2 linked regions of the Homo sapiens genome follow. The protein of the gene in region 1 interacts with the protein of each later gene in a pairwise test. Each region holds a gene or a part of one and is shown in the gene's direction. Other genes may lie near its edges.

Region 1 (7,655 bases):
GGGGGGAAAATTATAAGAAAAAAAAGCTAAAAACATTCAGTGAGAACTCAGTTTTCTTGGTAAACATATATATTTGGCACTTAAGATGCAAAGAAGTCTTGATTCTAATCCCAAAGAGCTTTTAATGTGGGAAGACATAAAGCCAGGGTATTTAATGCATGGGAGATAGTGCAGTCACAGAACCCAAGGCCTTCCTACTCCACGTGTGGCTCCACCAGCGGCAGCATCTCCTGGAAGTTTGTTAGAAATACAGACTGTCCAGTTCCACCCAAGACTGACTGAATGTGATTTTTGTCTTAACAAGTCCCTAGGTGAATCATTTGCATGCTAAATATTTGAGAAGTACTGACCCAGGGGGTGGGGTTGGGATCTGGGACTGATTCTTACAGGAAATAAATCCTGAGCTGTGTTTTGAAGATGAGTACGGTTAACCAGGTGGTGTTCCAAGCAGAGGAAACAACATAAGCAAAAGTTCAGTGGTATGAAAAAGCACAGGGGTGTTTTGGGAACCTGTCGCCTAAAATTGGTAATCAAAAGAGAGAGTGTGGGAGAGAGGAGGCAAGGGAAATGCAGAGAGATGACGCAGTTCAGGCAGTGGCCAGATCCTGCTGCATGTGTTCTAGGGTAAGGAGATTTGACTACACCTAATCCTTGACAGAGACGCATGATGACATGTTGAGATTTGCATTTAGATCACTGCAACCCTGAGGAGGCTGAAAGACAGAGAGATTAATTAGGAAGCTGAGGCAATAGTTTTGGAGAGAGATAATGAGAGTCTAAACTTAGGTTGTGGCAGTGGGGATGAAGAGGAGGGGGCAGGTTTAAGATATTTTAGGCACTAATAAACAGATGAAAGACTTCAGAATGGATTGGAGGTGGGAGGATGAGGGAGGGCTGAGTTTTGACTAGATGACTCGTAAGCTGGGATTAGTGTGTGGCTGTTCATGATGCCACTAACAGAGATGAAAGGATACAGGAGGACGAACAGGTTTGAAATTATGAGTTCAGTTTTCAAAATGTTCAGCTTAGGTGAATATAAAACATGTATAGATGGTCTCTGACTTACTATGGTTTGACTTTATAGCTGTGTGAAAGTGACGTGCATTTAGTAGAAACTATAATCCAATTTTGAATTTTGATCTTTTTGCAGGCTAGTGACATGAAGTAGGATACTCTTTTCCAAGGCTGGGCAGCGTCTCCCAGTCAGCGATGTAATCACAAGGGTAAACAACTGATATTCTACAATGTACTGTGCTGCCAGATGACTTTGCCCAACTGTAGGCTAATGTAAATGTTCTAAGCACATTTAAGGTAGGTTAGGTGAAGTTATGATGTTCAATAGGTTAGGCATATTAAATGCATTTTTGACTTGTGATATTTTCAGTTTATGAAGGGCTTATTGGGATGTAACCTCAAGTAAGTGGAGAAGTATCTGCATAGAAGGGAAAAAAGGAGGAAACAAGAAAAGGGTGGAGAACAGGGTGAATCAATCAGGATGGAGGAGGAAAAAATGCTCTGCCCATTTCCGGGGCAACAGTAATACACATAGTGTATCTGTGAGCTTTTCTTGTAGTTGTATTTCCAGAGGTTGCCTCCTTGAAACTTGGTTCCAGCAACTGGGTGGACCCTGAAAAAAGGTAAATAATTTGATTCATGGTTTCCTATCTGGTGATCAACTCATTGTTGCCACCGTTTGCTCTATGAAAAAAAAAAAGTTTTTTAATCTGTGGTTCAAACTGCTCCAATGTCAGTTTGTCTTTTTCCAGATTCCTGAATGTTTGAATAACTTTGTCCATGTCTCAAACACTGTTTCCAAAGTGGCAATAATACAATCCAGTATGTGTGTGTGTGTTTCTATAGGTCATCCTTCAAGCTCTGGATGACTCTTCTGCCACAAATCTTACCCATCTGTGAACTGTTACAGCTCTTTTATTTGCACCTTAAAATTCAGAACTGGATCATAGCCTGTCTCTAAAGTTATTTTTTCTAGACTTGACATTTTCTCAAGGAGTACAGGTTACTGAAACAGAAGAGAAATTAGTCCAATAACATCTCTTTTAAATGTCTTGAAAATAAACATTGGTGACAGTTTTGGTTCATTATCAAATCAGAACCCCTGAAGTGAAACCTGAGTATTGGCACTTACTAAAAGTGCCCTGGAGGATTCCAGAGTAGAGTCACAATCAAGAACCACTGACTTAAATGGCCAAGAGAGCCCCCCACCTCCGCATCACTAAGTATATCTTCAAAGAAAATGAAACATAATATTTGGCTAAAGAGAACTTTTAACAAACACTAATCATTAATAAATAATAAATCTTGTTTTAGGCCAAATATATATTTTACATTATGAAAGTGCTCAAGAATTTGGAGATATAGAAGAACACATAATCATGTGTATATAAAAAGTCATCACAAAAAGAATCATCGTTCATGTTTTAGAATTCTTTTTTTTTTTTCTAGGCAAGAACTTTAATGAATTGAACTGTTACTGACAACATAAAAAACCAGTATAATATATACAAAATTATCATTTTATGTCAGGATAAAATTTATCATGTTGGCAACAGAATATGTCCTGCCGACCTCCAAGTGGCTGGCACAGTACATCCACCCCGTGACAGGCCCACTGGGACTGTGGTGAACGTGCCTGTACCTCAGTACAAAGTCCCCTTTCCCTGAGAAATGTACAGAAGGAGAGATGAAGAGCGCGTATCCAAAAGGAAGAGGAAGAGGCTGGGTGCCCTGTGCCCCGAGCTCAGAACTTCGGGGGGATGACCGGCCAGTAATTAGGCTGCTTTGGATCACAGTGCTTGTCAAAGCTCAGCTGCACGTTAGCCTCCATGGCCTGGATCTTGGCGGCGCTGTCCCAGTACAAACGCTTCATTTCGGCCTGGCGCCGCTCACCAGGCCTCTCAGCTGGGGCCTCTACCGACCGGCGGGTGTTGCAGTACAGGTCGTGTTCAGCGTTCACGTAGCTGTTCAGGCGCTCCGCATCCAGCTGTTGCCGCCGCAGTAGTTCTTCTCTGTGCCTCTCTGTCTCTGCAAAGTACTGGCGGAGCTCTTCGGTGATTTCCATATTGCTCAGGTCACATGCTACCTCTGCATCTGACTCGGTCTCCATCTCTTCCTCCTTGGATAAGGCTTGGTCTTCTCTTGTGGATGCCTGGATCCTACTGCTGCCATGTGGATGTTGCCCAGACCCTCTGAAATGTGAAGAACTGCAGGGGGAGTCCTGCTAGGCCACATGATGGTCATAGAAGGACTGAGGATACGCAGCCTGGTTATCGTAAGAGCTTTGGGGAAGAAGCGCAGGAAGGAAGAACCATGGAAGACTGAAACAGGATTCCACCGCCTTCCTGTAGGCATTGTGGTGGCTTTGCATCCAAGCCATTGCTTGATGATAATGTTGCCAGTATCTTGCATATACTGGATGAGAATACCAAGGCCTGGTAGCTTTTGATGTTGATGCCTTCACCACTGCCATCTCCGATTGTGAAAGTCCAAATGGGTGCCGAAACTTGTGGGCGCGCAGCTTGCAGATCCTGGGCGGTGGCCAAGCAGGCCATGTTTTAGAATTCTTTCCAGGCGGGTCGCATTGGCTCACGCCTGTGATCCTAACACTTTGGGAGGCGGAGACGGGGCTGGGGGTGGGGGGATCGCTTGAGTCCAGGAGTTGGAGACCTGCTTGGGCAACATGGCAAAACCCCCATCTCTATAAAAATAATTTAAAAATTTTTTAAAAGAATTATTATTTCCATTTTATTTCAGTGCTTTGTCCTTTAAGAAAATTTATTGACATAGCGATAATCAGACTCCATACGCTATTTTGTATCTTGCTTTTCAAATTTGCCACAGGCTTCTAGAAACGTCCCAGACTTCTGTGTCTCCATGGAGGAAACCCCGTAAGTACTTACAAATGTTATGATTAGTCATCCCTAGCCAATACTAAGCAAAAGGTAGGCATGCGGTTTTATTAGTTTGGGCAGGAAGAAGGCATTCCAACCGGCTTCTTTCGCTCTTGCCAGGTTCAAACATGGCGGGCCGCAGCCGGCCCTTCCCGTACACTCGGCTTGCTTTCCCACAACCCCCGCCAATCTTTAGCGCTCCTTTTTTACCTTCCTTCCCCGTCAGCGGCTCCAGAGGGTCAGCACCTCCGAGCGTGACAGCGGACCTGCTTCCCGCCCCCCACGCGAGGGCCCGCCCACCAGCCCGCGTCAGCCAATAGCAGGCCGCGCCGATGGGGCTGGTAGCGCCGGTCGGCCCCGCCTCCCCAGCCTCGCTGTGGCCTGCGGCTCCCGGGCTGGTAGCGCGCCGCTCTCGGTCGCGCGGAGTGATCGTGTGGAATCGCGGGTCGCGGACGCTCGCCGCCGGCCATAGCTCAGCCTAGCGCCGCCAAGGCCGACGGCCCTCAGCCTCTGCCATGGACTTCGAGGACGGTAAGCGCTGCCTCTGGCTGGTCGGCGCAGCTGGCAGGAGGCGGGGTGGCCTACGCAGGGGGTCTGTTTACCGTCTCAAGATGGCCGTGTGGGCTTTGTTCTGCGGGCCCGGAGGCCGCCCGCCCGCCCCGGGCCCAGCGCCCGGAGTCGGCCTCTTTGGGGACCCACGCGCCCCGATTCGGCCCGCTCGGCGCCCGCTGCCGGCGGAGACAAGAGAACTCGGTGTCCGGTAGGACGCGCCTAGAGCGCGAGAGCCTCCGGGCTGGAGCCCCAGACTCGCCTTGGCCCCTGGTAGTGGAAATTGCCCCGACGTCTCCAACTTCCCGGTCTCGGGCAAACGGGCGAGTGCGGCCTCACCCACCTAGTCTCGCATTCGCCCCACAGGGCAGCGACCCAGACCGTCCGTTTAGTTAATCCTCAGCCTCGGGTTACTTCTTGCCAGATAGAATTTTCAGAGGCTTGTTCACAGTGATGTTTCTGTTTGTCCCGGTTTAAGATGAGTTGAAAGGGTGTCTGTAAGTGATATGTATAGATAAATATCTATGCAAAATGGAAAGCAAGATGTTTCCTGGTTAGTAAACTGGGGTGTTTATCACCAAAAATTACCTGCTTATTAATCCCTAACTTGAAATATTTATGTGAACCAAAGCACTTTTCTTTGGATCGTGTGTAGGTAGGATTTAAGTTAATCAGAATTTTGGCACAGCAAGCATCAAATGTCCTTCACATTTAGACCTGTACACAGCCTTGTAAGTGTTTGACTTACGGATTAAATAAACTGTATTTTAGCAATACTTTTCAGTTGTCTCAGATACTAATTCTTTAAACCACTTTTACAGGGTCACAAAGTAATATTAATTTGGTCTTCACTTTTGTTTTCAAACCTTGCTTGGAATTGGTGTCAAGATAAAGTGGTATGTAGTGACAACATTAGGGAGACATGGGAAAGGACTTATGTGATTAAACTGGATTTAATCCTGAGTAACCAGGCATGCTTAAGTAAAACCAGTTCACTAAGTAGGCTGTAAACTTTTAACCCCACCAAAAAAATGATCTTTAAATGAGGTGTGATCTCAGCATATGTCTTACTCGATGAGCTTTTGATTTTTCATAACATTTCATGCAACAAAGAATTAAAGCTTTCATATCTAGGTACAGATTTGTGAAAGGGGACTGGAATAGCCCTCTTGTAGATACTTTTCAGTTACTTTGAAATAGTAAGTTCAGCTCTTAAGAGTAGCACACTCTCGTGGTTTTGTTTGTTTTGGTTGGACTTTAACTCATTTTGATGTAGATACCTTTAAACTATGAATATTTGGGCTGGGCACGATGGCTCACACCTGTAATCTCAGCACTTTGGGAGGCGGAGGCAGAAGAATCCCTTGAACCCGGGAGGCGAAGGTTGCAGTGAGCCGAGATCGTGCCATTGCACTCTAGCCTGGGCAACAAGAGCCAAACTTCGTCTGAAAAAAAAAAAACAAAAAACCAACAACAAAACAAAAAACTATGAATATTTGAAGTGGCCAGAGTTGGGAGTGAAAATAAAAAATATATTATTGTATTTTCATGCTGTAGTTTGATGATAATGCCAACACCCAAGGTATAGCAGAGGCTAACAAAGTGGAGGTGGGGCAGTAGAAACAGTTCTTTCCACTCCCCACCCAAGGCAATAAGGGAATCCATTTCTATGGAGAATTGAAAAACAATAATAAAATGTAGTATGTCTGCTTTCTGTTATTGCCATATGCCAGAATTCTAAACAGTGTCAGTGATAGAAATTCTAAACAATATTAGTGATGAAATACGCCCTGTCTCACTGCCCAAATATACCACTGCTGTATTTGGAAGATGGAGTTTGACTAACACCATATATGAATCTATTCCTGTATAGTGTAGCAGGATTCTGTTGTATCCAGATGACCACTATATTAAATTCTGTTCTTTCAGTATATATTTGTAAAATTAACTAAAGAATTTAACAGTTGTTAAATTAGTTTTGATGAGGAAATTGGCAATATGGTTTTCAGTGATGACACATTCTGCTTGAATATAGAACACAGTCATATATGTATATGCATATGCATGTCTCAGATAAGATCTTGAAATCTTTTTTTTTTTGAGACAGAGTCTCGTTCTGTCGCCCAGGCTGGAGTGCAGTGGTGCAGTCTTGGCTCACTGCAGCCTCTGCCTCCTGGATTCAAGTGATTCTTCTGCCTCAGCCTCCCTAGTAGCTGGGACTACAGGCACGCACCACCAGGCCCGGCTAATTTTTATATTTCCAGTAGAGAAAGGGTTTCACCATATTGGACGGGCTGGTCTCGAACTCCTGACCTCGTGACCCGCCCACCTCACCTTCCCAAGTGCTGGGATTACAGGCGTGAGCCACCGTGCCCGGCCAAGATCTTGAAATCTTTAAAGAGCAAATTAAATGGTAAAAGAAATTAACTTAGCAAAAATTTCATGTTACGTACAATTCTCAGATGTCTTTGCTTTTGCATTATTTGATACATAATTTAATCTATCTGCCTTTGTGTTACTTGGTACAAATCAGTGCTGAATCCCCTCTTTTGGCTGTTATTATGTATCAGGTGTTGTAAACTAATGTTTACCATAATTTGGATAATAAACCTACCATTTGGGGAGATAGTGAAGAAAAAAGAGATACATTTTCTGGAATGGAGTATTGGTAATTATTTGTTTTAACTATTCTCAGTTTTGCAGATAATTGGGTTAATGTCATTTTAAAAATTGTGCTTGTTTTTTACTGGATCGGCATATAATTTTGAATTATTGCTAATATCACACTAATTCCTTTTTGTTAAATGTGTCTTCATAGATTACACACACTCCGCCTGCAGGAATACTTATCAGGGCTTTAATGGTAAGTATCCTCTTTCAGCTTTTCTCTTCATGCGCATAAAAATATAGTATCAATGTAAAAGGCCAGTTCTACCTATTTCAGTCCTTGTTTTGGTTCTTGATATATCATTTATGTGTTAATATTGTCTTACTATATATAGTATTTGAATTGGGGAATGTGCTATCAGAAAATGTTAGGGGTTATTCACATTAGTTTGATTTTTTTTTTGGTCCATTTTGTTTGAATTATGATTATTTTAATGTGTTCCAAAGGGCCTAACTACATTCTGAGTGATGAATCACAAGACACTGGCTGAGTTATTTTGGTTGAATTAGAGGCTTTGGTATTGAGTAATG
Region 2 (7,832 bases), on another chromosome or scaffold:
GAAGTTTTTATTTTGGAACATGATCTGGCTCTGTAGCCCAGCCTGGAGTGCAGTGGTGTGATCTCGGCTCACTGCAACCTCTGTCTCCCAAGCTCAAGCCATCTTCCCAGCTCAGACTCCCAAGGGCATACCACCATGCCTGGCTAATTTTTGTAGTTTTTTTTTTTTTTTTTTTTTTTTTTTTTTTTTTTTTTTTTGGTCGTTGTTGTTGTAGAAAGTGTTTCTTCATGGTGCACAGGCTGGTCTCGAATTCCTGAGCTCACGTGATCCACCTGCTTTGTCCTCCCAAAGTGCTGGGATTACAGGCATAAGCCACTGCGCTAGGCCAGCGTTTTTTATTCAATGAAAAGAGGCTCATAATAGCCTAGTTGAGAGACATGGAAGGCTTAAATGTTGCTCACACATATTAATCACTCAATAAATATCAGTTATTATGAATTCAACTGTTTTTAAAACTAAAGAAAAATAGCTGTTTATAGGTGTAAAATGTTATACCTAACATTGAGGCAAAATTTTCCTCCTTTTAGCTTTTCAATATTTCCTATAGACCCTGAGCATGCCTGCTACATTCTATGGTGTATTCTGATTATTTAGGCATGAGTATGGCTCTGCAATGGATTTCAGACTCCTAGAAGACAGAGACCAGGCAAGATATTTATCTCGGAATCTTTCATACTACCTCACAGTCAGTAGGCGCTTAAGAAATACAGGCTTCTTTCAGCAGTTGTTCAGCCTATTCTGAACCCAAAGCACCCCAGATTAAGGGATTTTAACTCCTTTGAGATTTGACAGGAGTAGTGAACTTAAGCTTTTGAGACAGTGGCAGGTGGCTGAGAGTCCTGCACAAACAGGACAAAATCTTATCTTTATTTAAGGAGGGGTAAGTGAAACCTCCATTTCATCACTGAACATTTATCTATATTTCTTGTCTATTTCTAGAAAAAAATGATGCTTACCTGTTTATTAATTTATTCACTGGATTTCCCTTTGCAATTTCTTAAGCTTAAGTCTAAGTAAAGCAACCTATAAAATCTAAGGTCAGATTACAGGCCAGAAAAGCCACCTATTCTAGAGTCCTAAAGCTGGGGTCCAGGGATAGATATTCACAAATGAGATTGGCAAAGACAAATTTAGTGAAACTCCATGTAAAATTGTGTGAGATTTTTTATAGTACATTTTCCACAACAGAGAGGGTCTATAGCAATAGTGAGGTTCTTAAAACAGTCTGTGATATTAAAAATATTATCCATTGATTTTCAAATCTATCATACTATGAATGAAATGCTGTGAAACATTCCATTTTCTTATTAAATGCCATTGTACAAAAGGTCCTATTTTAGTGTCACCCCAAAATCTACAGACAGGAAGTTCTTTCTTAAGTCTATCCTAATCTGTTGGCAGCTCCTCCCCATGGAAGCCCTTAGTAAATTCGGTGGAAATAGCAAACAGCTGCTCACCAACACCCACCCCAAAGAAAGAACAAGACATTTCTCACATATCTCAAGCTGCCTTAAATGTTCTTTCTTTGGCAAAGAAGAAAAAAAGAAATATATTTTTGGCCTCTAAACCTTTTCCCACCCGTGTGTATTTCTGCAAAAATGTTATCCATATGGTTTTGATTGCATTCTCCATAAGTCATTAGAAATGCTTTGCACTGAGAACTTTTCTGATGACCAAGGTGTCTTCGGAGACATTTTAAAATGGCCCTCTTAGCCTTTCTTCATAGAAACAGGAAAGCTAAACTGAGCCAAATGCAAATGAACTAAGACCTGGAAAGGTTGGCATTTTATTCAAAACTCAGAAACCATAAGGCTCGAGTGAGCCTTAAATCTGTCCATGCAAAGTCTTCACCTCCTTCTCCAGGGACAAGATACACTAAATCATCCATTGGGATGGGACACAGATAATGCAATGGATCCAGACATCTAAGTTGATATTTAGGGTTGGGTGCAGTGACCCCATAAAATTCCAAGAACTTCCAATCACCCCAGGGCTTCCCCATTATTCCCAGAGGATAAAGATTTTGGACTTGGACTTGGGTGTTGAATTCCTGACTCCATCACCTACTAGCTATATTTTGGCATATAGCTAGTTTGGCATATACTCAAGTTTTTCAAGACTCAATTTCCTATGCCATAAAGATGGGATAGTATTATCTATTCATACTGCAAAGTATTTTCAGAACTGTAAGCAATAATATTCAGAACATTGCAAATAAAATGCTTGGTGCACGGTAAAAGTTCAAAATTCTCTCTCCTCTTTCTCTCTGTGTAGTATTGGTTGGAACTAGAAGAGCTCTTTTTTTCTTTAGGGAAATATTGACTGGGTGGGGTGAGGAAGAGAAAGACTGGACAGTATTCCAAAGCATTAAGTCCCCACTTTCTAAGGTATGTAGACCACAACCCATCTTGGGAGATTGATTACAAGGAAAGGGTTAAGAAGAATCAGTCAGAACTTTGGTCTTCACCTGAAGTTGCCTGACTACGTTGTCTCAGATTGATTTCAGAACTGCATTATCAGCAGGGCAGCTGTTGCCTACTAACAGTCATGGAAGTAGATCTCAGCTGGGGGATGATGGGGAAACAAAGAGAAAGATAGGGACGAATAAAGGAAGGAATGGGGCACAGACAGAAAGAGAGAGAGAGAAAAGAAAGAAAGGAGGAGAGGCAAGAGATAGTGACCTGGGGTTTCATACCGCGGTGGGTGGGAGAAGGAGTGTGTGTGGTGGGCGTATTTCTTCGTGGTCAGAATCAAAGTCAGAACTGACCTGGGGAACCTGTGTTCAAGACCTGAACCTGGACCAGAAGCCAAGGGAAAGAGAAAGTTGCCCAAGAAAAAAGGGAGAAATTTCCACCAGGCGAAAATAGAAATCGCTGACTGGGTTTGTGGCTGGAGAGCTGTCCGTGGTGCTGACTCCTCCTCATTGGGATTCCAGTGAAGGCTGAGAAGCTCTGCACTGGCTGCTCCTCCTCTCCCTTTCCTCTCCCCTCAGTCCTGACCTTCTGAGACCCAGGATCATTCTGGCTAGCTCGATGTCTTCTCCTCTCTTTCTCCCTTTCTCTTTGTCGATTAAATAATTTTTCCCGAGTTCCCAGTTCATCACTCAAACATTTCTCTTCCATTTTGTTTCAAGACTCCTCTTCCTCCAATTAGTTCACTGGCTCCTAGATTGTTCTAGGCCTCCCTGGTGGTCACATCTCTCTCTTATCATCCTTTGAATTAAAAAACAAACAAAAAACATACAATGGCAATCATAAAAGCAGACAACATGCACTGAGCACTCACTAGGTGTCAGGGAGCAGTCTAAGTGCCTTTGCATACATTAACTCATGAGCAGTCTAAGTGCCTTTGCATATATTAACTCATTACAATTCCACATCAACCCTATTAGATGGGTAGATATATTATTATTCTATTAAACAGACAAGGAATTGAGGCTTAAGGGGTAAGTGATTTCACCAAGACCAGACAGCTACAGGACTCCAACCTCTCTGGAGCCTGCACTTCTACTGAATCTGGCTCTTTTACATATTCCAACACCTTTTCCTATGACTTCCTGCCCCTCCATCTGGTAGCCTTAATGCTTTCTATTCTTGCCTAATCTTCAGGGGACTAGGGATCTGCATTGCTGATTTGGTTTAAATCAGAAGGGAAGCAAAGTAAACAAACATACCAAATGTGCGCTGTGTGGGAATTATCATACGAGGGCTTTATTTTCTGCTTCAGGAAGAGGCCCTATGTTAGCAGCCCCAGCCTGCATTCAGGCTGATTGCAGAGTATTTTGCTTTTTATTTTCATGTCTTAGTCCCTGTACCCTCGCCCCTTCCCCGCCTCTGGTGGTCTCCAGAGAACTTCGTGTCCCCTCAGCTTCTCCCTCCTACATCCTGCCTACGTAGAGAAGCTCTTGCTTCATTCTGGGAGGTTACGTGGGCTCTCGCCTACACACCGAGAGAAACAAACAGTGTCAAACACTCACAGAGAGACGCGCAGACACAAACGGACCCACACGGGCAACTCCCGAGACAAAACCCACACTCGATGGATCCACGCGGCCGTGGAAACACCTGCCGCCCCAGAAACACTCAGGTACTCGCGACACACACAGTACAGTCACGCTTAAGGGCACCAGGATTCCGGGTTTGCGCGTATGCGCGGTCCCTTTGGATGCTCGTGCGCATAGACACAACACCCTACACGCCCCAGACCCACGAAACTCCCTACGGCTCAGCCCCAGCCCACCCGGGCCGCCCTTCCCTCGAGGCGGCCTCCCGTCTCTCCTCCTCTCGCTTCTCCTCCTCCTCCGCCTAAAGATGTACAAAACACTCCTCGGAAGCAACCCCGGCGTTCAGCTCCTCCCTCCCCGCCCCCCGGCCGCCGCTCCCCCATTCATTTTCGGCCGTCGCCGGCTAAGTCCCTCCCCCGGCGTAGCCCGGCCTCCGCCGCTCCCCGCCCGGAGACCGCGGCGCACTTGGACTTCCCTCTCCATTCGCCAGCCGCCTCGCTCCCGGACCCCACGGCTGCAAACTGATCTGGCGCGCGGGGAGGAGGAGAGCGCAGGCGAGCGAACCCGCGAGAGAGGGAGAGAGCGAGCGAGCAACAGCGAGAGCGAGAGCGAGAGAGCCGGGAGGCAGAGGGAGTAGTGACCGCCTTCCGGAGCCGGGATTCATGCCTGTCCTCGGGACCAGCGAAGGGGACTTTACGGCTGAGTATGAGCCAGGCTGCTAGGAGCCAGGTACCCCCACGCCTGCAGTCCCCGCGCCGTGCCCGGAATGCGAGCTGCACGCAGGGCTCTCCCAAGTTCCCACCGAGCCGAATAAAAAGCGTCCTCCCGCAGCTCTCCGCCAAAGACGGACATTGACTCCAGGTAAGGCGGCGCCGGGTGCAGCGCCCCGCAGCCCCGCTGCCCTTGGACCCGGCCCCGGGCCGCATTCGGGGCGTCCCCGCGCTCCTCTGCCCCTCCCCCTACCGGCACCCTTGTCCGCTCTTCACCTGGCCGCCCCGCCGCCTCCAAGTCTTCTCCAGTTCTAGGGAGGGGGTTCCTGTGCCTGGGGCTCAAAGGGCTAATTGCGGGTTTGAGTGAGTGGCGTGTGTGTCCCCGCGCGCTCCCGACGTGTGCACCATGGTGGGAACTTGATGTGGTGCTAGTGTGTTTGCGTGTGCGGCGTCGTTTGCGTTTGATGCGTGTGTTCGTGGTGTGTGTGTGTGTCCGTGTGTGTAAGGGAGGGGTGAAGAGAGAGAGGTCCTATAACCTACTTACGGCGCGATGTGTGTGTGCATGTTTGTACGTATGTGTTTGTATGTGTGCCCTCGTGTGTCTTTTTAATTAGGTCTCTCCAGCTTACACGGAATGGGACCCTTACTATAGGATCACGTAGTCACCGGGAAACCCGCTGTGGACTTCCTCTTGGGGCTCTGGGCTTGGGGTTTGGGGAGGATTATGGGGCTGTAGATGGCACCTTATTTAGCCCAATGTTGGTACGCTTGAAGGAAAATTCCTCCAAACGGTGGAATCCTGCTACACTGGGACCCACAGCTTAATATGAAAGAGACATGGCCAACCCCCGAGGCAAATGAGACGCTGTCACTTTAAATTCTACACTGGGCAGACTCCAAGATTCTGATGGGAATTTGGAGACACTGGATAGTGGGTGACAGAGAAAGGGGGAAGTCAGCGGTGGGCTCCTTATCTGGGGCTTGGAAAGTCTGGGATAGGGATTTACCCTGCATCCCCGTTTGCAATCAACAGAGCCCCTCCGGCTTCTGTTGGTTTTGGGGAGGATCTGGCAAGTTTGCATGGATCCCCCTCAGGGGAAAGGAGAAAGCGTCCTCGGGGACTTGCTCATCCATCACAGTTGCAAAGGGTCTCAGAGGAAATTTCATCTGGGGCGGCTGTGGATGATATGGAAGGAGATGGATGGGGCACTTTCCTAAGACAGATTCGTCTTTCTTTCCCCATTTCAGGCGGGGAAGCCCCCAGAGAGTCTCTCCCTAAATATGCCTCTCCATGGCTCCCCTGGAGTTAGGGGGATATTGAGAGAAGGCAGAGAGGTGGAGAGGGAGAGAGAGAGAGCAAGAGCGAGAGAGAGGGAGACAGAGAGAGAGAGTGTTTCAGTACTGAGGGAGATCTACAATTTGAAAAGGGGCTGTGAGTGTGGAACCCATGACAGAATGTGGCAGTAATTGACTTAAACTGCTGTCGGTTTGCACCTCGCGTCTCTCACTTGGCTCCAAAATACTGCCAAGGGCAGGGGGGCGGTGGAGGAATCTCAGCCAGGAAGGTAGTTTGGGTCAAGGCCCTCTTTCTTCTTTCCTCCATCTCCTGGGAGGCTCTTTAGGTAGGTCCCTTGGCCACCCTGGCTTGGTACTGTTGGGCTTGGGCTCTGGGGCCAGCCATTGATTTGATTCCCAGCTGCCTCTTAAAGGCTTGCCCTACTCAGCAAAAATGCTGAGTTTTACTGCTGTTAGCATGGCTTCCAGACTCGGCAGCTGTTACTTTCTCAAGGTAAGCGGCAGCCGTTCTGCTCTCAGGCAGGGAGGCTAGGAGAAGACAAGGGCTGTGACGCTGGGACACAGCCTCTTGTCTAGCTCAGCACGGAGGGGCCGCTGAAAAGCCCTCTTAGGGGAAAAAAGTAGAAATATATTTGGCCTAAAAAATGTACACATATATTCTAGGAAGATATATATATATATATATATATCAATCACACACACACACACACACACACATGTGTTCATATTCTGGGGAGAGATAAAAGCAAACATGTATTTGTAGGAACCTGCCCTAGTGGGTGGGTTCTACCTGCAGGCACTTGCAGACATACCATTCTCTGTCCAGAGGCTGATACCTCAGGCTGAAGCCTTCACATAGCCACAGAGAATCTCCTTCAGGAAACTCATGTCAGGGCAGAGCTCCCTGGATTATCTTGGGTAGGGGGTACTAGGGCCAAGGAGGAGACCCATTTTTGGGAACTGCCTCATTTTCTCTCTTTCCTAATTCACAGACGATCGAAACTGGAAGGAATATTAAAGAGCAGAAAGGCAGGACTCTGTGGCCTAAAGAGGGAATGAGAATTCCCCAACATTCAGTAGTGGGTTAGTGGCATGCCCAGGACTAGAATCTAGGCTTATCAATCAGCTAGATCAATACCCTTTCCACTCCTCCCAGCAATATACACTCTAGGACTGTATATTGCTCCCACCCCTATCTTGCCAACCTGCCACCATGACCCCTACCAAGACAATCGCTTGTCTTCCCTCATCAAACTTCACATTTTCAGAGATGCATTTCAGGGTTTTTCTATCTGGAAACATGGCCCTGAAGAGAAAAGATCCAATGCCTCAATCACTATTCCCGAAAGACACACACACACACACACACACACACACACACACACACACACACACACACACACACACGGTGGTGGGGGGAGGACTGAGAGAGAGACAGAGAGAGAACATAGATTCCTTCTCCAATGTCTTTAGGGAATTACCGACAAGCAAGGACCCAGTACTGAGTGTGACTGGTAGGCAGAACCCAGCAAAGTGTCTGGTCTGTATCTAAGATTTTTATTAAGGAATGCACTGGTTTCCAGAGAGCAAAATGTACACCCATCTACCAGTGCAAATACTTCAGGCAAATTAATTTCTTTATATTAATTAGAATCTCACCCCTAGACATTAATACATATTACAGGCACAGAAGCATATGCAAGCACACATGCATAGGTGTGCTTATACACACATGTGCACACAAAGATCCAGAAACCTTTCCTGCTTGCTACATTTCCAAAAAAGAGAACCTCCACACCAAATTGTGTTCTCCCATATAAAGC

What was found. The genes of interacting proteins can lie anywhere in the genome.
Region 2: the proteins of ZNF326 (region 1) and BRINP1 interact in binary tests that used the Homo sapiens proteins (3 or more experiments, as listed by UniProt).

What each region holds. Positions count from the first base shown.
Region 1 is NC_000001.11:89,990,835-89,998,489, forward strand, and holds the start of ZNF326 (DBIRD complex subunit ZNF326), read left to right. Parts: upstream 1-4,275; 5' UTR 4,276-4,423; coding exon 4,424-4,439; intron 4,440-7,275; coding exon 7,276-7,320; intron 7,321-7,655. UniProt on the Homo sapiens protein: Core component of the DBIRD complex, a multiprotein complex that acts at the interface between core mRNP particles and RNA polymerase II (RNAPII) and integrates transcript elongation with the regulation of alternative splicing: the DBIRD complex affects local transcript elongation rates and alternative splicing of a large set of exons embedded in (A + T)-rich DNA regions.
Region 2 is NC_000009.12:119,366,088-119,373,919, reverse strand, and holds the start of BRINP1 (BMP/retinoic acid-inducible neural-specific protein 1 precursor), read left to right. Parts: upstream 1-4,484; 5' UTR 4,485-4,864; intron 4,865-7,832. UniProt on the Homo sapiens protein: Plays a role in neurogenesis and brain development. May suppress cell cycle progression in postmitotic neurons by inhibiting G1/S transition.